Homo sapiens: one gene and its partners. The protein of the gene in region 2 interacts with the protein of the main gene of each other region in a pairwise test. Each region holds a gene or a part of one and is shown on either strand. Other genes may lie near its edges.

Evidence for each region.
Region 1: the proteins of FKBP6 (region 2) and RAB11FIP2 interact in binary tests that used the Homo sapiens proteins (3 or more experiments, as listed by UniProt).
Region 3: the proteins of FKBP6 (region 2) and CBS interact in binary tests that used the Homo sapiens proteins (3 or more experiments, as listed by UniProt).
Region 4: the proteins of FKBP6 (region 2) and ECM1 interact in binary tests that used the Homo sapiens proteins (3 or more experiments, as listed by UniProt).

What each region holds. Positions count from the first base shown.
Region 1 is NC_000010.11:118,008,907-118,015,942, reverse strand, and holds part of RAB11FIP2 (rab11 family-interacting protein 2), read left to right. Parts: intron 1-832; coding exon 833-878; intron 879-6,717; coding exon 6,718-6,945; 3' UTR 6,946-7,036. UniProt on the Homo sapiens protein: A Rab11 effector binding preferentially phosphatidylinositol 3,4,5-trisphosphate (PtdInsP3) and phosphatidic acid (PA) and acting in the regulation of the transport of vesicles from the endosomal recycling compartment (ERC) to the plasma membrane.
Region 2 is NC_000007.14:73,352,129-73,359,129, forward strand, and holds the end of FKBP6 (inactive peptidyl-prolyl cis-trans isomerase FKBP6), read left to right. Parts: intron 1-6,052; 3' UTR 6,053-6,497; downstream 6,498-7,001. UniProt on the Homo sapiens protein: Has an essential role in spermatogenesis. It is required to repress transposable elements and prevent their mobilization, which is essential for the germline integrity.
Region 3 is NC_000021.9:43,058,814-43,065,849, forward strand, and holds part of CBS (cystathionine beta-synthase), read right to left. Parts: intron 6,883-7,036; coding exon 6,803-6,882; intron 6,709-6,802; coding exon 6,574-6,708; intron 6,460-6,573; coding exon 6,390-6,459; intron 5,179-6,389; coding exon 5,087-5,178; intron 4,266-5,086; coding exon 4,140-4,265; intron 3,583-4,139; coding exon 3,498-3,582; intron 1,734-3,497; coding exon 1,628-1,733; intron 491-1,627; coding exon 413-490; intron 156-412; coding exon 21-155; intron 1-20. UniProt on the Homo sapiens protein: Hydro-lyase catalyzing the first step of the transsulfuration pathway, where the hydroxyl group of L-serine is displaced by L-homocysteine in a beta-replacement reaction to form L-cystathionine, the precursor of L-cysteine.
Region 4 is NC_000001.11:150,511,102-150,514,318, forward strand, and holds the end of ECM1 (extracellular matrix protein 1 isoform 1 precursor), read left to right. Parts: coding exon 1-97; intron 98-355; coding exon 356-730; intron 731-1,250; coding exon 1,251-1,471; intron 1,472-1,623; coding exon 1,624-1,711; intron 1,712-2,135; coding exon 2,136-2,366; 3' UTR 2,367-2,688; downstream 2,689-3,217. UniProt on the Homo sapiens protein: Involved in endochondral bone formation as negative regulator of bone mineralization. Stimulates the proliferation of endothelial cells and promotes angiogenesis. Inhibits MMP9 proteolytic activity.

The DNA of each region.
Region 1 (7,036 bases), on a different chromosome or scaffold from region 2:
TTGTTGTTTTGTGCATGGAATAAAAAGGTTCTTAGGACACTAATGCTTTGTGAAGGTTTTAAAGGCTAATACCTTTAAGTGCTGGGTAAAAATTAAACTTGAATAGCACCGATGAAATATTTACTCATCAGATGGCTTTGAAGTTTAGCGTCTTTTGGTTGCAGTCCCATCTAATGGACATGTTTCAAAGAAGAAAATAGTTATAGCATTCAGCTGTGATGTTTTCTTCTCTGCATGGGAGAAATCTGTGTTGTTTTGATTCGTTTCAGTATTTAAATTTTCAAGACTAGCTACTTAGAAATCACATTAACGAGAGAAATGTTTCCCACAATTCTGAATTTATTCTTATTGATAGGGTAATGTTTGAAAGCTGAGTTTTCTAACACTTATGGCATTTTTAAACAGATTGCTTTAACTCTTTTATTCTATAATCTTTCCAACCTAAATTTACTTAATTCTCCCTAGTTTTATATCAGAGGGCCTAAGGTGAGTGACTGTGTGTAAATATAATGGGAAATCTCTCACACAAATTAGTTTTGCAAAATATCTTGCTGGATAAAAGTGCTATGTTTAAAGTTGTTTAGAAACTTCCTATTTCATTCTTCAGTTCTGATAACTAAAAAGTTTTCCTTCAAAGTTTGAAATTGTAATGATGCTTTAAGAATGTTGGGGAAATACTGGATTTTTTTCTACTTCTTGGATTAAATTTCACTCCTCTGAATAATGTAGGGCTTTAGAAATTTGTATTACAATGTTGGTTAAAATTTTTCTATTTTTATGTTTCCTCCCACATGAGTTATGACACTTTTAACATTTGTTTGTGTTTTATTAGTTTTCATATGAGTCCAACAAGCAATGAAGACCTCAGGAAAATCCCGGTAAGTTGCTGAAGGGGTTAGAGGGTTGTCAAAGAGTAAGCTGGTCTTTTTCTCTGGCACACATTTCTAAAAATGCCTTTGTCTTCTTGCCTTCTGCCTCACTTACCTAAGAATTGTAGCTTAGCGTAGTAATTTTAGGAGAAAGAAAGAAAGTAAAATACAATCTTTGCCTTTAATATACAATAGGGTGTGACTCGTATGATCTATGAAAGTTCAAGCAAAATTGGTTATAATTGAAGCCAATTTAGAATATACATATTTTGTTTACAGACTTTTGAAATTAATATGCAAGCTGTATGTCAGGGTCAAATTTGTGGTTATGAAATAAGAGCACGTAGAAAAGACTATTTTTTGTTGTTGTTGGGACAAGGATTGAAGAAAGAATAAAGCTGCTTGTTAACATTCAACAATAGAAAAGCATCCTGGCAGGAGAGCCAGATAACCAGGAAAGTATTTGAAAGAACAAATACTTTAGGACACTTATCTTTCTCGTCAGAACAAAACCAAATATGTTAACAGGATTGGTAGCGACCACCTAAATCAACTCACGTATTTTGCAAGGATTATTCAGATAATCTGAACTTTATTGTAGTATTTGAAGTCCAGTATTTAATCTCTGTTCAGAGTTCCATTGCATCTGCAATCAATTCTAACTATATTAAACGTAGAGAATAAATTACTTTGCCAAAATATGGGCAAACGTTCTTGGTAGAAAACTAAATTCTCACTGAATAACAGAAATAGAGGCTTTATTCCAAGACACTGGTGGTTGCTGTTTCAACCATCTGTCCTTGATGTGTGCGATCCAGATGTATAGTAAGAATTTTTTTAGGCAATCCCATATCACATATCACTATTTTTTAGGATGTGACATGGCTAGAAGAAGCTAAGGTGGGTTTAGGGTTTATTTTCTAAACCATTCTAAATGCAGTTGTTTATCTTTAAAATTGTGGAAACTGTTACAGAAGCACAGGACTTTGTACTGTGTTTTTGCTGTTTTATTTAAACGATTCGTAAGTTTTGATGTTTTATAAATTCTCAAGTCTTTATAATATGGCAGTCTGGCGAGAAATGTGAGAAAATATGAAGTCAGCCTTTGATCAGATAGTAAAATGAATTCTATCAGGCGGTTACTTAATCTCAAACAAAATGCAACATCAAAAAAATCGATTTAATGTGTAGCTATTGTTTATTAAGTAACCTTAATTACAATTTCGATTGCTTGTAAATGTACTTTTCCAAATCTTGTAATTTATTGCTGTAGAAGCATCCTTAGAATTCTTTAAAGAAATAAAATGTGAAAATTGTTTTAGTTAAAGGATTTAAAGGTGATAAAAGAATCCTTGATGTGTGATTATTTTTCTCTGGAATACTAACTATTCTAAATGACAGTTAAAGGATTACTAGGTGTTGTTAATTTACTGCAAGATACAATTAAGAGGAGGAAGCGCATCTTCGTACTGATCATGATTGAAGAAAAGCATTCGAACAATTTTTATGTTGAAGATTATAAGATGTTTGAAGTAATTTACATTAAGTTCTCCAATAATAGCCATCCACCAAGTTATTTTTTCTCCCTCTGGACATAGTATTTTGTAATTAAGTTTGTATGTCTTATATGCTAGTGCCAACACCTGTCTGTGAAAGCACAGTGTTTAAACAGGAGCAGTAGCCAGTTGAAAGGGCAGTGTGAGCTCTTTAAGGCCTAATTAAGAACTGAAAGGGAGATGAAGGGAGTAGGACAAAAGATGTGAAAGTAGCTGAGATGATATTCCCAGAGCAAAGTTCCTCATTAGAACAATAATGAGATGATCAGAGAATGCCAAGCCTTCATTTTTTTTTCTCTCTCTCCTCTAGTTGCCTTGGATGTCAGTTAGTACCCCACCAATATTTGGTTACCAGGACAACCTTTCTTTAAATCTTCAGTTATTTTGAGTCTTGATAATTTGCTTTTGTTTAAATTTAAATATTGTAAAAAATGTACATTTCCTAGTTTAAAAGGCTAGACTGTGTAAAGCAAAAATAGATCACTAGCAGTTCTCAAAATCTTATGCAAAACTGTATTATTTAAAATTCTGGGTTAGAAAACTTCATGTAGTAATTCTAATATTTTCTTACCAGTCCACATCTTCTATGTCTGCATATGGACATTTTTAACAGAGGTGGAGTAGAAATGAGAAAAGGTTGGTTGTAAAAGGGGAAGAGAGAAGAAAAATTTACATTAAATTTCAAAATAAGAAAACATCTTAAAAACATAAGTGCTGTCTGTATGGAGTACTGTAAGAAAAAATATTGAGCACTTTGGAGTAACCATTGTAAGTTGCATTTGGTCTTTGCCAGTTTAGAGAGTTATGAATTTTGCAAGTTTTTGCAAGAATAATCTTTCGAAAAAATAATTTTTATATTTACCTGAGAGTTTTCCTCTCTAAAAAAATAATTTTTGTAATGAGCATATGTTTTAATTTTCTATTGTTTATATTACTTAATCATTATTTTATTTGGAGTTATATCAACAAACAGAAATATATATATATATGTGGAGTATATCAGTCAATTTAAGAATCTCATGCCTAAAATTAGAAGGTTTACATTGTTTTCAAATATCAGATAAAATCTGGAACTCAGCATGAAACTGTTTTTAATTATTTTATATTCTTTTCCAGAATATAATTCATAGTACATATGTTTCTAAGATGTTTTCCTGCCTAGAAACTTGATGCTAAAATTTGAGGTGAAATTTTCACATAAAAGGACAAACGGAAAATTTATTGAAAAGGCCAGAAATGTATTTCCAGGAAATCTGTCTACACATTAGTGTTAGATTGTTGTAAGGAAAAAAAAAATAATCCAAATAACATATCTGTGTATTCTAGAGTATGGCTATAAAGTATGACCAGTAGTCTGAAATAATAATTGATTATTTTGAAAGATTAAACTATTAATTTATATCATGGCTTTAATTTATATCAAAACACAAATTTTTGAAACGTTTTTCATCTTCAGTGTCTTTAGAGAAATGTTACAAAAAATTTTTAACTACATTAACTGGTAATAGTGTTAAATATAACAGTGCACTTTTATTTTAACTATTTCATAGCTTAATTAGTTTGGAGAAATCAGTTTATATATGTGTAATTTTATTAAGATTAGAGAGACTTGAATAGATGCTTTTATTATGTTAAATAAAGAAAAAGCATAAAGCAGTCAACTAATCAGTAATGAATCCCATTTAGCTTCCTTTCATTAATCCCTGCAATTCTCACAAGAACATGAATTTCTCAGTAAATGTTTTATTAGAAAAGTGAAATCACATTAGTTAGAGTTTATTAGTTTTTAAAGTGGGGTTTAGAAAAATCACTTGGTATACCAGACAATTTTAGAGTTGAAAGGGACCATGGAGAACATCTCATCTATCAGATAAGGAAAGTGAGACCCAAGTTGCTTTCTCTCTCAAATTTATGCAGAATTACTCGAGTTGAAGTAAGACACTTTAGCTTATTTTTAAGAAATTTCAAAAGTATACCGAACTCTACACTATGTCTTCTCTTTACTGTAGAAAACGGCTTAACATAATCTTTTATAAGAATGTAATTAATACTTATGTATCTCCAAACTATATATTATGACCAATTAAACTAGTAACTACGTGCATGAGAGTGTGTGTGTGTGTGTGCGCATGTGTGTAGACTTATAAAAGATTAATTGATCTGAGAGAGGAGGGAGAAGTAAAACAACACTTATCTCTAGAATTGTCCTTTAATGGTTTTAGAACAATATTTGAAATGTTTTTAAGGATGAAGGAAATATGACTGAAACTTACATCTGTTTCCAGTTTCTAATGCTAAAATAAACTAAGTTGTTTTAGACATATTTTATAGAATTTAAACTCACTTCCCTTTAATATCCTCTCTATTCATTCTTGCTAACTCTGGTCTTTCATATTTCAATAGCCCTATACCTAATCTTAGCCCCTCCAAATGATTCCACTGTTGCCATTTTACTTTTCCTGGAACATAGCTTTAATCATATCCTTTCTCTGTTTAGAAACCTTCAGTGGCTTCCTATTTTCCATAGCAAAAGTCTAAAAATTCTTTATACTACCATTCAGCATTCTTGGTGGTCTATTTCAAACCTTCCATTTCGGCCCCTGTCTGCTCGCTGTCCTGTACAGTATTTTCCAGCCATGCTCTACAGAGTACCTGTTATTGGATTACCTGTTGGCCACTATGCCTTGAGCCTTGTTTCCTTCTTTGAACAAGCAGAGTTCACTGCTTGAAATGCCCCATTACGCATTTCTGCCTGCAAACTCTTGAAGGCCTAGCGCAAGCTGTATCTTCTCCACAAAGCCTGAGAGATTCTATGAAATTGGAAAAGTTTTTCAGTCCTGAATGTTTTCACTTATCCTGGAGAAGTGGGTGTGCTTCAATGACCCAAGCATCAAATTGGTATCTGTACTCTAGCTTCTCTTTCTCTGGTCTGGTAAAGTCCTGGTTCCTTGGGCTGAGAGGCTGGGGAAGTGGTGAGGGCCAGTGAAAAGTTAAACTTTGGCTTTTCTCATGAACACCCCCAAATACATAGCACTATTAAAGTAGATCCTGAAAACAGGGAAGGACAGTTTAATTCTTATTGGGGGTGGGGGTCATTCTGCATTCACCAGTCCCCATTCCCCATCCTCCACTGAATAGATTAGATAGTATTCCTTAACAGCAAGAAAACCAATTTCCTCAATATTTTAGTTAAGTTTCCTTAAAGCCAAATGGAAATGTTTTAAAAGATAGTGATGAAAATTATTTTAAATTGTTGGGCTTAATGAGAGAACTATGATTTAAAAAGAATAAAAAATTGCTTAGTTGTAATTGGGCATTATGTTTTACAGAATGAAAACTCTTAATGCTATACACTATAAATAAAAGATTATGTTACAGGGCCTTGATTAAATTCCTGAGAAATATTTTTCTTTCACTTTTGATATAACATTAATATTAGAATGCTTTGTAATAACAGTGAATTAATAAGTGTCTTTTAAAAAAGATTTTTGGTTATATTTATGCTTTTGCCTAAAAAGAATTTTTGTCAATAGAATAAAGTTAAGTAAATAGATGAAATGGGAGAGAATGCAAATATACTAACCGTAGTATTAATATGGTTGAACTCTTGAGTTTCCTGATAACCAGGGTCAAAAAGGGAAAGAAGATAAATTAGATATTATTATAGGAGAAAGAAATAGACCAGTTACTCAGGGGAGGAAAAGTTCTGCCTGTTTCTAAATTAAAACAGAAGTTACTCACATGGGGCTTCCTGTAAGGATAATCTTTGATTTAATTCCGAGTGCTTCCATTTTCATAGCAAATTAGAAAAGATTTTTGCTGTAACCATCTTCACTAAGAAGCCAAACATATAACATTAAATCACAGTTCAGTGGAAGCAGTTTCATAAGGACACAAGTCCAAGTGTATAGTTTTCAGTTACTTCTTACAGTTCCTCTGAGTTAACTTTTAGAAATCTTTAGTTTTCATCTATTTTAGTTGTATTTATTATAGAATATTTCATCTCTTAATGTAATCTTACATGATATAACCAGTCTCAGATATTAGGAAATTGCCCACAATGTTAGAAAGGGTTTTAGGATTTAGAGTTATAGTCAAAACTTTGGTGCATCTGCCCTAGTTCTTGCCTCAGGACTGGCTAGCCAATTTGTGAACTGTCACATTCACTTTAAGCAAGGCTAGCGAAAAACTTCATCAGGGTTTGAAAAACAAAAAGTCGAAGTTCCAGGTAATTCTTAATGTTTGTCCCAGATGTTATATCTATGAAAGTGACAGTCTTTATCCTGTTCTAGGACAGCAACCCCTTTGATGCCACTGCAGGGTATCGTAGTCTGACCTATGAAGAGGTTCTACAGGAGCTGGTGAAACACAAAGAACTCCTTAGGAGGAAAGACACCCACATCCGGGAACTCGAGGACTACATCGACAACCTCCTTGTAAGGGTAATGGAAGAAACGCCCAGTATTCTCAGAGTGCCGTATGAACCATCCAGGAAAGCTGGCAAATTCTCTAACAGTTAATAAAGCCAATTGTATTGTATTGATAATTGGACAAAGAGAGAGAAAGAAAGAAGGAAGGAAGGAAAAACTTGTTACTGAAAGAGACTACACT
Region 2 (7,001 bases):
CTGATTTTTTTTATTTTGTAAGATGGGGTCTCATTATATTTCCTAGGCTGATCTCGATCTCCTGGCCTCAAGCGATCCTCCTGCCTCGGCCTCCCAGAGTGCTGGGATTATAGGCATGAGCCACCGCGCCCAGCCATGGAGCAGTCACATCTTTAAGATCACTGTGGAGTTGTTTATGCTTCATGAAGACCGTCAGATATCGGCTTAGTCTGTTTTTAATTTCTTGCGTTCATTAGGTGCATAAGCCCTGCCTCCAAGCATACATAATCCCAAACACCAACCTGGATAATTAAGTGTACAGGTAGTGAGTGAAAGAAGTGAGCCTAAGCAATAAGGAATTGACATCAAGCCAGTGCCTTGTACCTTCTAGGGAGAGCATGAGTCCCCGCCAGCTTTGCTGGCTGACCCCCATTCTGCAGGTGCTGATCCTGTTCTCAAGACCTTTGGTTGTAGCTGTTATTGACTGTCATACTTTTGATGCTCCCCTACGCTCCCAAGCAGCCACCGACCCAGGGTGAAGCTGAGATGAACTGGGGTGAGCCTCAGAGGTTCAAGAATCCAGAGAAGGGTTTTCAAATCTAATAGATAAGTGAAGAGCTATGAGCAAAAGTTCTCTCTAGCTCAGAGGTCACTCAGACATTCACAAGGTGAGAAGGATGTGGTCTGCCGTCACTGTGAGGGCACCCACAGCAGTCATTGTCAGCATCAGTCCAAACAGAAAAGGCAGCAAGAGGCAGACAGAGGGGCATCTCCAGGATGTTTGGCATCCTGAGGTCATACAGCTTCATTTTTTTGGTGAGCTGAATATCATGGCCATGAATGCGAGCAAATCTGCACTAACTTCCTTTTGCTTCTCCAAGAAATGGCCTAGAGAGGCTGCCTGCATTTCTTGGCTAGTGGCCCCTTCCTCTTCTTCAAAGACAGCGGCATGATATCTTCCAATATTTCTCCCTCTCTCCCTTTCTGTCTCTCCCTCTCTCTCACCCTCTCTGTGAATCTCTCATTCAGCCCCTCTCTCCCCTCTGCTTCTGTCATTTTGTCTCCTCCTTTTTCTGACCCTCCTGCCTCCCTTTTACGAGGATCTGATTACATTGGGCTGACCAAGATAATCGCCCAGCTCAAGATCCTTCATTTAACCACAGAATCCCTTCTGCCATGTATGGTAATGTATTCGTGGGTTCCGGGAATTGGAACAAGGATATCTTGGGGGGCATTTTCCCATCTCTCATACTCTGTTACAGATCAGCATCTGTGAGGGACTACACATCTTGCCAATGCAGAGATAACTCAGCACTCTGCATCCTCAGCATTCTCGGCTTAATCCTTTCCGTCCCAGATGAGATCATCCTGACAGCCGTCTTTCAGAACATTTCCTTTCTCGTGCTCCCTTCTGGTGGCTGGGGCCTGATGGACACAGCTCACCTCATCTTTCTGCTGTTTGTTTACTGCACTTGAGGGTTGCTGTACTGTTTACATTGTTAACAAATGCTAGGTTTGCTACAACCCCACATCAAGCAAGTCCGTTGGTGCCATTTTTCCAACAGCATGTGCTGAATTTATTTCTCTGATTTACATTTTGGTAATTATCACAGTATTTCTTTTTTTCTTCTTTTTTTTTTTTTTGAGGCAAAGTCTCGCTCTATTGCCCAGCCTGGAGCACAGTGGCACGACCTCAGCTCACTGCAACCTCTGCTTCCCAGGTTCAAGCAATTCTTCTGCCTCAGCCTCCCCAGTAGCTGGGATTACAGGCGTGCGCCACCACGCCCGGCTTATTTTTGTTATTTTTAGTAGAGACGAGGTTTTACCATGTAGGCCAGGCTGGTCTCAGACTCCTGGCCTAAAGTGATCCTCCTGCCTTGGCCTCCCTAAACCTTGTTTTTAAACAAGCGTGGCAGTTTGGATGGCACTTTGACCCTTCTTTGACCATGTATCACAGCACAGTGGCAGCTGGTGGTGGTGAGCTGCAGTTGTTGGAGGAAGTGCAGCAGAGCCATGCTGTGAGGCCTGGCCCACCCCCAAAACCGGGAGGTACCTGCAGGCGCTCTCATTCCATGTCAGCCTGGAAAGGGTGGGCTCCAGACCACTCAGCTCCATGCGCATTCTCATGGGACTAGGTGGCCAGTTGTGACAGTGGGGAAGTAATCGCACTCCCTGCAGAGGGACGTGGCCAAGGGAGGAGCAGAGAGCTGGGCTGGTGGAGCACGAGGGTGGCTGCAGGAAGTGCAGCAGTCAGCATGGAGTGGCCGCCAGAGAGCCAGGGCCACAGGTTGGGTGGGGAGAAGCAGGTCAGGGAGTCCCTGCAATGAGGGTTGGCTCTGAGAAGCCGCCTGGCAGGAGTGGAAGGGGCAGGTGGAGGACCCAGCAGGCCGGAGGACTGCCGCCTTGCGGGCTGGCCAGAGTGTCACAGCAGAGTCCCAAGGGGTGAGGACTCCTCAAAAAATTTTCCCCCTCAGTTGATATTTTTGGAGATATCCAGATTAGGTTCTTAAGATTGGCTGAGTAATGCATTTTGGGAAGGGGAACCAGTTGAATGGTTTCAGGAAGGTCTTTCATTCTCCACGTTTACTATGTACAGCCTTGGTTCATCTGCTGGGATTTTGAAGAGGCAGCCATAACTTTGATCAGTGTTTTTGAAGGGCTGAGTGACCCATGCAGGGTTCCAGGGTCTTCTCACCAGATGATGTTCATGGCTGAGTTTACTCTAGTTCCCCGTTGCAGGGTACAGGGAAGTGCTTGAGGCTGGGGCTGCGAGGCAGGGCTGGCACACGACACCCACCGCCACCGTGGGAACGGCACCTGCTGAGCCTTGATCCTCAGCTCTTTGTCCTCCGATTTCCGACAGAAACATCCTGGGCTCTACAGCCTCCAGCCCGTGGCTCCGCGATTACATCACTCCTCTGTCTTCTCTGTTACATTTCACACCCTTCTTTGATTACTGCTTATTATGTTGTGCGATTATGGTGGACACCACTGGCATTGCTGCTTGGGTTTCTAGTTCACAGTCCCTGTGCCTTTTCCGAGGCCTGGGGCCCACCCGCCGTGGAAGCAGCCTGGTTCGTAGGAATGGATTCAGCTGGAGTCGGCTGTGGACCTTTGTCTGTGTTCGCTGCCTCAGCCTGACTGCCATTGTCTTTGTCGATCTCCGGACTTATTTCTCCTTGAGCCACGGATACAGCTTTTTTCTGACTTTGCACCTCTGTGCGATACATGTATTGGGTTTTCAAAATGAAATGTGAGCTGAGCTTTCCTATGTTGGCGCATTCTCGTTTATGCTAAAGTGTTACTTTTTATTGGCTCCGATTTGAAAATTCAACTACCTGAACCTCGTGGGATCCCTTCGTCTGTAGGGAGCTTGAAGTTGATCTCCCCCCATCTGCATTCATGCCTGGAGAATATTGATTTTAGGGCTTATTCCTAAAGTCATTTCATGGGACACACCCTAGATCAAAACTTTCTTTTTTCACTTGATTATTATTAAACTTGTCATTATGGACATTTTCAAACGTCTCCAAAGGTAAAAAAAAAAAAATGATAACATGATCACTACCCATGTATCATTACCCAGGCTTGACAGTGAACATCTTTCTGCTGTTCCTGTACCCACTCTCCAATTTTTTGGTAGTACTTAATTTTGAATTATAAAAATGCCACATGCCAGCCGGGTGCGATGGCTCACACCTGTAATCCCAGTACTTTGGGAGGCCGAAGCAGGCAGATCACGAGGTCAGGAGATCGAGACCATCCTGGCTAACACAGTGAAACTCCGTCTCTACTAAAAATACAAAAAATTAGCTGAGTGTGGTAGCGGGCGCCTGTGGTCCCAGCTTCTCGGGAGGCTGAGGCAAGGAAGTGGCTTGAACCCGGGAGGCGGAGCTTGCAGACAGCAGAGATCGTGCCACTGCACTCCAGCCTGGGCGACAGAGCAAGACTCTGTCTCAAAAAAAAAAAAAAAAAAAAAAAAAAAGTGAGTGTATATGTAACTTGTCCACAAAAAGAATTATACATTTTGTACTAGAATATATTTTTATTGCATTTTGAGTGTTTTCTAAGTTAACACAAAGAGAACTACGTCGTTTTTAAGAAGTGGCTGGATAGCATTCCATCCTGTCAGGATATGGAAATGGTTTTCACAGTGATTAGTAGGCAGGTAGGTAGGTAGAGATTAGATAGACACACAGAAACATGGTCATGGAGCTATCCTCACGCCTGACTTTCCTGTGACAGTCAAAGTCCTATCACTGGTTGTGATGGGTGTGTCTTTGCCTGAACTAGGTCATGCTAAACTGACCTCTCCAGTGGCTGTACCAGTTTGTTCTTGGTAGTGTCTGAGAGATTCCATTCCGTCGCTTTGCCATCATTTGGATTGCTAGACTTTTTAATATTTGCCAGGTTGGTGTATCTCAAATAGGATCTCATTACTAGCATTAGCAGTTCCCTGACCAGGTCTCTGTTCACATGTTTCCAGACTGAGGTGGCCTTTCTGTAAATTGCCTAATTGTTTCTCTATAACCAAACACCTTTCTGATGTTTTTAAGTTATTTTTGATAACTCTGTCATTAATTCTGTGAGTTCTATCAGCAGTTTCACTGCATGCATCAGGTATGTGATACCATATGCCGGTAATGGTCATTTTGTCTTCTCCTCTTGTATCTTTTTTGTTTCCCCTCACAAGACAGAGTTTCACTCTTGTCACCCAGGCTGGAGTACAGTGGCGTGATCTCGGCTCACTGCAACCTCTGCCTCCTGGGTTCAAGCGATTCTCCTGCCTCAGCCTCCCGAGTAGCTGGGATTACAGGTGCCTGCCACCACGCCCAGCTAATTTTTGTATTTTTAGTAGAAACGAGGTTTCACCATGTTGGCCAGGCTGATTTTGAACTCCTGACCTCAGGTGATCCCCCCCAGCTTGGCCTCCCAAAGTGCTGGGATTACAGGCATGAGCCACTGTGCCTGGCCCTCCTCTCATGTCTTATTCAGAGCCTGATGGTGCGGTGCATGCTTCTAGAACAGTAGCGATGGGTGTGCCTCATGACCGTAATGGAGCTGCTGCTCGCTCCACCGTTAAACACCATGCTGACTTTGGCTGAGCTGTATTTTTTTCTTATCATGTTATGGAAATGTTTGTTTGTTTTTGTTTGGTTTGGTTTTTTTTTTTTTTTTTTTTTTTGAGACGGAGTCTCACTCTGTCACTCAGGCGATCTTGGCTCACTGCAACCTCTGCCTCCCGGGTATAAGCAATTCTCCTTGCCTTAGTCTCCCAAGTAGCTGGGATTACAGGCACCAGCCACCACGCCTGGCTAATTTTTGTATTTTTAGTAGAGATGGGGTTTAATCATGTTGGCTAGGCTGGTCTCGAACTACTGATGTCAAGTGATCCGCCCGCCTCAGCCTCCCAAACTGCTTTGATTACAGGTGTGAGCCAATGCGCCTGGCACCACCTCAGTCTTTACTTACTTCTGTCCCGTTGCCTGTGGTTCTGGAAGTCTGACTGGAAAGGGGTCTGTTCCTGACACCCCACCTCCTCTTCCCTCTCTCAGGTGCTGGCTCCTTTGGTTGTATTGGGGTAGGGAGGAAAGAGAAGGGAAAGGGTAGCTCACGCCTGTAATCCCAGCACTTTGAGAGGCCGAGGCAGGCAGATCACTTGAGGTCAGGAATTCGAGACCAGCCTGGCCAACATGACGAAATCCTGTCTCTACTAAAAATGCAAAAAAAAGTATCCAGGCGTGGTGGTGCGTGCCTGTAATCCCAGCTACTCAGGAGGCTGAAGCAGGAGAATCACTTGAACCCGGGAGGCAGAGGTTGCAGTGAGCAGAGCCTGTGCTACTGCACTCCAGCTGGGTGACAGAGTAAGGCTCTGTCTCAAAAAAAAAAAAAAAAGTTTCCCAGAGCCCATCTAGTAGGGCCACACGGTGATGGCATCTGTCTCTTGGCTCCTGTGTGGTCACCGGCCATGCCCTTCCCTGACCTCAGCTGCTAGCCCTCAGCACATGTGACTGTGACGTCGTGTGGCAGCTGCTGAGTCCTGAGATGTTTTTAATGGCTGTTTGATTCCCAGGTTCTTCACCTACCAACGAGGGGAGAGAGCTGTGGTTCTCCATCATTGGGGGAGTGGAAGGGAGCTCCCAGCGCAGCCGTGGCAGCCACCTTCCAGGAGCAGGGGCTGGAATGTCCTGTGGCCGCATCTCTCATGGACGCGGCTGAAACGTGTTTTCACAGGTGCTGTTTTCTGTTTTCCGTGTTCGTAACAGAAGGGAGGGGAAAGCGCAGCTACTGACAAGTAGAACACTGCTACTTTTTTTAAGGCAGTTTCTTGTTTTTTTAGACGGAATTAGTCCTTGGCTTCCCTCCCAGTCCCAGCCCTGCTTCCGGCTGCGAATGTCCCTGAGTCAACACCAATAGAGATTGCTTTGTGTATTTTGTAGGGTTCTCTGTTTTGAAGACAGAATTATGTTACAAATGTTTTTGTTGTAAATAAATAAAACACTTCCTTGTCCTTGCAAGATCCAGTATAAGTGAATTGCGTGGACTCAGCTAAGCTTCCAGAGTCCCCAGGTGGGCAGGGGGAGGCCATTTGCCAGTGGGGCTGGGGCTCAAGCTCTGGAGCCAGCGGTTCTGATTCACCTGATAACGAAACGCTGCACACCAGGCTTGGGGTTCCCTAAGCCCGCTCCCAGTGTGGGGAGCTGATGCCAGCAGCTTAATGGAAAGTTGAAGCTACTTCACCCTCCCATACCCCGACACCCCGGGATCCTTGTCCCACACAGCCCTGAGGCCACCTCACCCTCCTGCGCCCCGACACCCCGGGCTCCCTGCCCCACACGACCCTGAGGCCACCTCACCCTCCTGTACCCCGACACCCCGGGCCCCCTGCCCCACACAGCCCTGAGACCACCTCACCCTCCTGCACCCCGACACCCCGGGCTCCCTGCCCCACACAGGCCTGAGGCCATCTCACCCTCCTGCACCCCAACACCCCGGGCTCCCTGCCCCACACAGGCCTGATG
Region 3 (7,036 bases), on a different chromosome or scaffold from region 2:
GAGCAGGGGCTGAGACTGACCCCGCCTCATCCACCACGGGCGCCTGGTCGAAGCCCTTCTCCCGGAGGATCTCGATGGTGTGCCCACAGGTGATGGTCGGGAGCACGGTCAGCGGGGCTGACAGGCCCAGCTCCTGAACACGGAGGTGCCACCACCTGAGGGAAGAGGGCAGGTCGGGGGGATCAGGATAAGGACAAACGCTCTCGCACCCCCGCCGGCAGCACCTCAGCAGGAGGCCACAGGGACCGCTCTCCTGCCTGTCACACTGGGCAGGGCCAGCACAGGCCACGGGGACCGCTCTCCTGCCTGTCACACTGGGCAGGGCCAGCACAGGCCACGGGGGAGTGCTCTCCTGCCTGTCACACTGGGCAGGGCCAGCACAGGCAGCGGGTCTCCGGCCGAGCGGTCTTACCAGGGCTTCTTCTCCGTGAGGTCCTCCTCCTTCAGAAAGCCCTTCTGCAGCATCCACCTGTCGCTCAGGAACTTGGTCCTGCGGGATGGGGGAGTCACCGAGTCCCCGCAGGGCCCCACCGGGCCCCCGCCCCTGCTGAGTGGCACGCACTGCCTGCCCAGCCCCTCTCCTGGACCTCACTGGTGCAGCAGAGACCCCCAAGTGCTGGCTGGAAGCCCCAGGGGGAAGCCTGGGGGCTGGACTTCCCGCCCCCATGGCCAACAAGCGTGTGTGAGCATGCACACAGCCATCGCTCAGGCACTCAGATAAACACGTCCTCTCATGCTCGCTCTCTGCCCCTCACACACTCACACGCACAGGTACACATGGCAGGCTGGCCAAGTATGTGGGGAGATGGTGTTCTTGCACTGACGGGGGTGGGCAGGAGCCCTGCACAGGGCATCTTGACCCTGGGCACCAGATGTGAATCACCCCACACTGGGGAACCCAACTGGGGGCACCCACCAGCCAGGCCTGGCCCTCCAAGGGCAGCTGAGCTCTCGGGAGCTGTGTAGCCGCTGCAGCTTGCAGGCCATGGAGGAAACCCTGCAGGTGCAGGGGACAGGGCATGGGGGTCTGTAGACACCCGCCCTGGTACCGCCTCCGGAGACCAGGTGCAGAGCAGCGCCAGTCTCAGCCTGGCTGCCCGGTGACCAGCGAGGTCTGTGGCGTTACTGTCCGAGGGGCCTCTGGGCAAAACAGTCACAGCAAGTCCTAGGGGGCCACCTGGGCAGCACTCGGTCCCAATCTGGAGTTTGGGGGAAGCAGCAGAGGGAGTCAGGGTGGATAGGAGGTGGCACAGGGCCCGGCCCAAGAGGACGTCAGTCCATGTGGCCAGGGCTACCCGTTGGAGCTCACGGACCCCAGAGCAGTGAGGGGGACAGACACCAGAGAGGAAGGGACAGGAGGGACAGAGAGGGAGCCACCGTCTTTCATGCCCCTCCTGTCAGGGCTGTCACTGCGAGTGTGCATTGATTTTCACAGCATTAAGAGGCTGGGAAGCCCCACAGCGTGAGGGCACGTGGGCAGGAGAGTGGAGGCGGTGCTCACAGGGCCCCGCTGGCCTCCTCCCCTCCCAGTTCTGGCTGCCGGTTCTCAGGTGAGGCGTGAGAGGCATCCAGGGAAGGGTGGCAGGATGGAGAGGAGCAGGGACCTGGGAGGGAAGCCGTGTCTTACATGTAGTTCCGCACTGAGTCGGGCAGAATGACCACGCAGCGCTGGCCCTCCTGCAGCTCCTGCGCGGCCTTCACGGCCACCGCCACCGTGCTGCCAGCACTGCCACCTGCAGAGAGGGCCACGAGTCAGACGCGCCAGGGTGAGCGTGCGTGGGTGCACACGTATGCATGAATTGTGCACGTGCACGCATGGGAGCATGTCAGACACACTCCGAAGGATCCGTCAAGAGGGGTTGCCTCGGGGAGAGGGGCTGGGAGGACCCCACTTCTCCGTGAGCATCGGCTTCTTCCTTGTGCACCATGGAGTTTCTGTGTCCACTCGGGGCTTCATAATGAGCTGGGGTGGGCACTGGTGCCAGGGAAATGCCTGCAGTGGGGCTGCGGCCCCTGGCAAACCTCCTGGCCCTGAGCCTAGAGCCAGCGATGCTACGAGGACGGAGCCCCCAGCACCACGCCTGCAGGCTGCCTGACTGCACACTGGGCTCTGCTTTATAAACAAGAGACCAAGGCTCACAGTGACACCAGCTGTCCCTAGGAGCCCTGAAGTCAGAGTCAGAGGCGTCTTCTCTGGGCTTAGTTTGAGGGTGCACACAGCAGTCGGGAAGGTCTAAGTCTGCAGTAGGAGCCCCCACAGGAAGAGAGGCACCCTCCTCTGTAACGGGGCCCATGGACCTGCTTTCCAGCCCCAAAGGCAGGGGCTTGTTTCTCCACCAACATGGGGAGCAGGGAGACTGAGACAGGGAGAGCCCAACGATTATGGGCACCAAGTCACCTTTCGTGACAGATTCATCTGGAAAATGCTTTTCTTTTCTTTTTTTTTTTTTTGAGATGGAGTTTTTGCTCTTATCACCCAGGCTGGAGTGCAATGGCGTGATCTCGGCTCACTGCAACCTCCACCTCCCAGGTTCAAGCAATTCTCTTGCCTCAGCCTCCCGAGTAGCTGGGATTACAGGCATGCACCATTACATCGGCTACTTTTTTTTTTTTTTTTGGTATTTTTAGTAGAGACGGGGTTTCTCCCTGTTGGCCAGGCTGGTCTTGAACTCCTGACCTCAGGTGATCCACCCGCCTCGACCTCCCAAAGTGCTGGGATTATAGGCATGAGCCAACGCGCCTGGCTGGGAAATGGTTTTTCAATCAAGACTTTCTTCCAATCTCTAGTTTGGGGCTCAGCTAACGGGGGACTTGGCCATGCTGAGGGCTGGTTTCCTTCCACTTTCCCTGTCACCACCCCCAAAGTGACATGACACACGGAATGCACATGTAGAAACCTCACATGTCCCTGCCTGCGTTTTAGAAGCTGGTGTGTGCTCTCCGAGTCCCCAGAGGTCTAGATCAACTGTGGTCCCTACAGGGCCTCTGCTGCCTGTGTGGCTAGTCAGTGGCATTGCCAGCGGCCACCTGGTCTGTCCACCCCCAAGCAGGTGGGCAGAGGGGCACGGGGTAGGAGGAAGGTGAGCGGGGTCGAGCTGGACAGCCTCAGGCTCCAGTCCCCTCCCCAGCTGCTCCAGGGTGCTCGCAGCACCCAGTCCCGGCCATGGGCCCCGTCAATGCAGAGCCACCGCCCCAGGGGCCCTGGTGGACTTGATTAGAAACAATAAGTGCCATGAGAGCTTCAGCCTTGTTCTAGAAACACATTCTGGAAGGCAGCTCGAAGCCCCGCCCCATGGCCTCCTGCCCTCACCTGAGCAGGTGACCACACTGGGCAGGCAGACAACACCTGAGGCTCGTGGCCGCCGCAGTGACACTCCTCAGAACTGCTGTCTTACACATGCAGGTCGGTGGCTGACTGAGGGTGCGCCCCCAGCCATCCCCAGTGCCCCCTAGCCATCTCTGCCTTCCCCATACCCCCGTGCCCGCCACCCACTCACCGCACAGCAGCCCCTCTTGCGCGATCAGCATGCGGGCAAAGGTGAACGCCTCCTCATCGTTGCTCTTGAACCACTTGTCCACCACCTGAGCAGGACCCCACCACAGCCCGTCAGCGTGGGAGCCGCTCCCACGTGACCAAGAGGGTGAACAGCCTCATGGTGGACCCCGTGTCTAGGCGGTAGGACCCCAGAGGTCTCACCCCAGCCTCTCCCCCTGGGATCGGCACGTCTGCAGACTTTCCAGTTCCAACACGTTTTGCAGACAGCAAAACTGCCCGCCAGCCCCACTGAGCATCCGTGTGACCCACACCGGCCCTTCGGTCTCTGCTCTCCCTCAGGCCAAAGTCAGCTTTTTGGCTCTTAACAGACTTTTCCGGGGCCTTAATTTTCACACGTTTTCCCTGCTCCCTGCCTGTGCCACCTGGGCTACATCCCTTGGTGAGGTCAGGCCACGTGTGCGGACATCGTCCCCCAGTCTACTTTGTCTCGACCTTCGAGACCAGCTTCTCACCATGCGTGCGGGGCTTGCCCTTCTGTTTCAGTGGAGAAGCTGGTTGGGGCCCAGGGTCAGCCAGGCTCCCCAGTGTGAGGGTGAGTTACAGGCTGCACCGGCACTGTGGCCGGGCTCTGGACTCGACCTACCGTCCTGTCCAGCACCGTGGGGATGAAGTCGTAGCCGATCCCTTCCACCTCGTAGGTTGTCTGCTCCGTCTGGTTCAGCTCCTCCGGCTCTGCGAGGATGGACCCTTCGGGATCCACCCCAATGATCTGCAGAGGGCGCGGCTTCAGGGCTCAAGGCCAGCAAAAGCCCCGCCTGGACATGCCTCGATATTCTATTATGGGAGTGGCCAATACCGCCGTTAACAACTGCCTGTTAATGATCTGCCTGTGGGTGGTGGCCTGTTCCCAGCCTCAGAGGCAGGATGAGAAACCCAAGAACCCAGGCTCCAAGTATTAAAGCGGTAATGACCTAAATGTTCAGTGCAGGGCGCTCAGAAGTAAAGGCAGGTGCCTGGGAGGAACTGACCTCCCCGGGGTGCTTCTCGGAGCGGGGCCCCCAGGACAGTCCAGACAGACCACCCTGCGGCGGAGCAGCAGAGCCTTTGGGGACAAAGGGCATTGCTGGGCAGTGACGTCTTTTTCAAGGGCAAGCAACAGGGAGAGAACGCCCTTGTCTCATCAGCGGGACCTTTCTAGGCACCCGTCCTCAGACCTGCTCTTAACCCCGAGTCCAGGAACCCTCTCCCAACTCCCACAAGCCCCAGTTGAGGGGCAGACTCAGGACCAGAGGACTTAGAGCTCCTGGCTGATCCTCAGAGGCCCCCAGTTGGAACTCCGACCCCCCACTCAGCGCAGGAAGGTTCTCCAAGACACTGGCCGGTGAGCGAGCACCCAGCCCCAGCTCCTTCGGGTCACGAGCTGCTGGTCCCTTATGTGTCAAGCACCCTTGTCTTCCCAAACACCTCCCAGGCAGCGCAGAAATACCGCGGGAGACAGCGTGCTGAGCAGACCGTGAGGAATGACAGCTTTCAGCTCAGAAGCCGGGGCCACTCCGCACTGCCCCTCTCCGGCCCGGCCACACCACTCACCCTGCATCCAGGACACTTCTCCTTCAGCTTCCTGGCAATGCCCGTGATGGTGCCGCCCGTGCCCACTGAAGCCACCAGCATGTCCAGCTTCCCTGGTGGACGGATAACATTCTTGGGTCCCTGCCTGGCCAGCCCATCACTCATAGTAATAATCATTGAAAACACACTCAGCCCAAACCACGGTGGGTAACCAAAAAGTTCAAAAGAAAAACTTCTTCTCCAGTTGGAGCAGCCCTCGTTGCTGCCCTTGGTCTGTGAAAGCCTCAGAAACAGGCAGCCTGGGGCACCCCAGCCCAGTCTTTGCTCAGTGACACTCGACCCCTAAAACCCCCATTTGGCTGGATGCAGAAAGACAGGACCCTGTCCGGGGGGTGCAGGCGCTGAGGGCGGGCAGAGGGAGGCTGTGAATTAACCACCTCCGTGGGCTGTTGGATGTTTGCGTGGTGTGAGTGAGTTAACTGAATTTACACAGGAAATGGAATCAGTCTTTTAGGCTTCAGCGCAGAAACTCGCTGGGCGCTCACACTGCTGGCCGCCAGCGCGGGCATCTGGTGGAGAAGTCACAGCAGGGAAAGACTCAGCGAGACGGAGCAGCTTGGGCACCCATGCTGAGACAGGACTGTTTTTGCCAAATGAGAGAGTTCTCACACATAAAGCCCAAACAACCAAATGCCTGGACCTTACAGCCCGGCTCCTGGGCACGGACTGAGGGTGTACTCCAGCCCATGCCAACACCGGATTCCCAATAGGAAGCCAGGGCGCCAACCTCTTGGCAACTTATCTCTAAAGGGATCTCTTGGGAAAACCTCAGTACCAACCCCCACAGGCCTTGGCACCGAGTCCCTGGAAAAGGGCCCAAGGAGCCGGCCTCATGCTTGTAACAGAGAGTGAGCTCATCGCAGATGTCACCAGCTCTGTTCTGCAGATGAATTTGATGCCGAGTCAGGGCATGATCCCAAATGAAGTCCAAGCTGTGAGCCCAGCACCAGCCTGGGCCCTGAACAGACTCGCTGTCTGCATTATCTGCAGGAGGAGCCCCTGCAGACCTGCAGAGATTGCTGGGTAAACAAATACAGCCATGCCCTGTGTTTGCTATTACAGGTAAACCACAGGCGGAGGCCAAGAGGGCACAACGGAGGGAGGAAATTGTTCTAGAGAAATGCTCTAGAAAAGCATTTCACAGAGGGAACATTTGAGCTGGGTTCTGAAGGGTGAATAGGAGTTCACCAAGGAGAGGGCAAGAGATGTGTACACTCCCAGGCAGCCAGGGATAAATGCAATCAAGATGGACAGAGGGACGCACCATCACACTGCTGCAGGATCTCATCAGCGGTGGTGTCGTAGTGAGCCAGGGGGTTGCTGGCGTTGCGGTACTGCATAGAAAGAGAGCAGAGCCCGTGAGCTGACCCCTGACACCTCAGTCACCCCCACATCCCTGACCGAGACCCTCCTAGGGAATGCCTGTCTCCAGGCCCCAGGTGCCTCACCTGGTCTAGGATGTGAGAATTGGGGATTTCGTTCTTCAGCCGCCAGGCCACCCCCACGTGTGACTCCGGGGAGTCGAACCTGGCATTGGTGGGCGTCCTCACAATCTCAGCCCCCAGTGCCCGCAGCACGTCCACCTGCAGGAGGGAAAGCGGTGGCCTGCACCTTCCGCCTGGCCCAGGCACCCTCATCCCCTGCCCTATGACCCCGCCCCTGGCCACGCCCACCCACCTTCTCGGAGCTCATCTTCTCTGGCATCACGATGATGCAGCGATAGCCCCTCACTGCCGCAGCCAGGGCCAGCCCGATCCCTGAGGGCACACAGAGGGTGAGAGGGGCCCAGTGACCCCCCAAGCCCTGCCCCGCCCCTGCCTGGGACACAGGGGCACACCCCGATGCCGGTTCCCTTAGGGCCCAGGGAAGAGGGTTCTGTGGGATTCCAAAATTGCCCAACATGGCTGCTTC
Region 4 (3,217 bases), on a different chromosome or scaffold from region 2:
TCGCCAGGGTGAGACCCTCAATTTCCTGGAGATTGGATATTCCCGCTGCTGCCACTGCCGCAGCCACACAAACCGCCTAGAGTGTGCCAAACTTGTGGTAAGGTTGGGTTCTTGATGCCGGGGGGTGTCCTTTAACCCCAGACAGTATGTGTGTTTTAAGGGTTAGAGCACTAGGCCTGGGTCTGGAGGAACCTCAGGTCCCGTTCACTGGCCCTACCCTGGGCCTCCCCAATGTGCCAGGGGAGCAGAGGACAACCACTGTCTCTTCTTTATCTGCCTGCCCAGTGTCCTTTCCTGGAGCCTGGGAGGAAGGCAGGAATGTGGAAAGTGGGCTGATCCTCCCCTCTTGCTCTAGTGGGAGGAAGCAATGAGCCGATTCTGTGAGGCCGAGTTCTCGGTCAAGACCCGACCCCACTGGTGCTGCACGCGGCAGGGGGAGGCTCGGTTCTCCTGCTTCCAGGAGGAAGCTCCCCAGCCACACTACCAGCTCCGGGCCTGCCCCAGCCATCAGCCTGATATTTCCTCGGGTCTTGAGCTGCCTTTCCCTCCTGGGGTGCCCACATTGGACAATATCAAGAACATCTGCCACCTGAGGCGCTTCCGCTCTGTGCCACGCAACCTGCCAGCTACTGACCCCCTACAAAGGGAGCTGCTGGCACTGATCCAGCTGGAGAGGGAGTTCCAGCGCTGCTGCCGCCAGGGGAACAATCACACCTGTACATGGAAGGCCGTAAGTGGGCGTCCCAGCCTCCCTGAGAGCCTGTTTGCCTGCCTGCCCATCTTCGACCTCTGATCCTGCCAGTCCATCCATCCATGTACCCCCCCTGCTGTGAGTGCGTCCACCCGTTCATCTGCTTGTGGCTGTCCGTCCATCCATTGTGTTTGTCACCTGAGTTTGTTCATCTTGAGCTTCGTACTACACTTCTGGCCTCCTCCACTCATGATCCACACACGCATCTGTCTACCATCCATCCATCCGTCCAGCTCTGGCCTCACCTGACCTTCTCCATCCACTGTTCCAGCTCATCTCCCGGCACCAGCTTGGAACCTCATCCAGGCTTCCACCCGTCCACCTTCCCAAGCCCACACATCAACAGTTGCCTCCTAACCCTCTACTTTTTTGCCATTCCCTTTGGGCCTCTCGGGCTGGGAGCCCCTCATCTAGTTGCCAGGGACGATAAGGGAAGTCGATGGTCAGGAGAGAAGGGGCCAAGTGTCCAGCTTCTGACTTCCCTCTCTCTGGTCCACAGTGGGAGGATACCCTTGACAAATACTGTGACCGGGAGTATGCTGTGAAGACCCACCACCACTTGTGTTGCCGCCACCCTCCCAGCCCTACTCGGGATGAGTGCTTTGCCCGTCGGGCTCCTTACCCCAACTATGACCGGGACATCTTGACCATTGACATCGGTCGAGTCACCCCCAACCTCATGGGCCACCTCTGTGGAAACCAAAGAGTTCTCACCAAGCAGTAAGTTGCCTAGTCCTTCCCCACTCTCTTCCTTTCCCGAAAACTTCCTTTTGGGACACCTTTGGGAAAAGCAAAATCATGATATCCCAACCCCATCTGATGCCAGAAGATGCCCAAAGACCCTAACCCCTGCCCCTTTCACACCAACATAGTAAACATATTCCTGGGCTGATCCACAACATGACTGCCCGCTGCTGTGACCTGCCATTTCCAGAACAGGCCTGCTGTGCAGAGGAGGAGGTGAGTGTGTGGAGTCTAGTCTCCAGAGGAATGCAGGGGAGGGGAGGGAAAGAGCTAGAACTGCAGGCCACCCCTTCTCTTTAGTACCTCAAACCAGCCTTTGGTTATAATGACTAGTGGGGGAGGTGTTTTTTTCTTGGTTCCAGAAAAGTCTTCACTCTGACCTGGCCTGCTCCCCATCTCTAAGTTCCTATTATGCCTTCTCCGGGCCACAAGCTTCTGGCATTTCCAGATGTACACATTTGTCAGTCACAAGGAATCCAGCTGTGCAAGGCAGTCTTGTACTCTCTCTGGGCCCCAGGAGGGGAACGAGGGAGAGAGCAGTAGAAGCTGATGAAAGGGGGACTTTGGCACCCAAGTATCTACATCTGTCCTTGGACCACCTCCCCACCCCATCATCTGTTTTACTTTTCTCATTCATCAGAAATTAACCTTCATCAATGATCTGTGTGGTCCCCGACGTAACATCTGGCGAGACCCTGCCCTCTGCTGTTACCTGAGTCCTGGGGATGAACAGGTCAACTGCTTCAACATCAATTATCTGAGGAACGTGGCTCTAGTGTCTGGAGACACTGAGAACGCCAAGGGCCAGGGGGAGCAGGGCTCAACTGGAGGAACAAATATCAGCTCCACCTCTGAGCCCAAGGAAGAATGAGTCACCCCAGAGCCCTAGAGGGTCAGATGGGGGGAACCCCACCCTGCCCCACCCATCTGAACACTCATTACACTAAACACCTCTTGGATTTGGTGTCCTCATTGTCTATCTAATGTCTCACCCGCAGTGTTTTAAGTGGATCTTGGTGCCCTGGCCCAGGAGGGCACTGGCGTTTTCAGACACACCACAGACAAACACACCCTCCTAAGCCTGCTTGTATTTCCTTCAGTGCCTGGCCCCTGAGGCCCACGGCCCTGCCCCCTTCACTGAGCAGATGTTCACAGGCTGTGGGATGCGACCATAACTAAACAGCTTGACGTCACTTTGCCATCTTGAATTTATTCACATATTTTGAAAGGAGTGCCACCTTGTTAGCTAGCTATCAGGACTCAAAGAAGATATGGTTCTTGGCCTTGGTGAGCCCCCAAAATGCCACAGCCCAGCCTAACATTTTTAAAGCTTCACTTTTGATCCTTAGAATTCATGCCTTCATTCATTCAATATCCTTTTTTTTTTTTTCTTGAGACACAGTCTCGCTCTATCGCCCAGGCTGAAGTGCAGTGGCACGATCTTGGCTCACTGCAACTTGCAACCCTCCTGGGTTCAAGCGATTCTCCTGCCTCAGCCTCCCGAGTAGCTGGGATTACAGGCGTGCACCAGCACACCCAGCTAATTTTTGTATTTTTAGTAGAGACGGGTTTTCACCATGTTGGCCAGGCTCCCAAAGTGCTGGGATTACAGGCGTGAGCCACTGTGCCTGGCCAATATCCATTTATTGAACCCCTATCTATGCACACTCTGCTAGACTTGGGGATACACATCCAGAACACACACAGCCCCTGCCCTGAGGT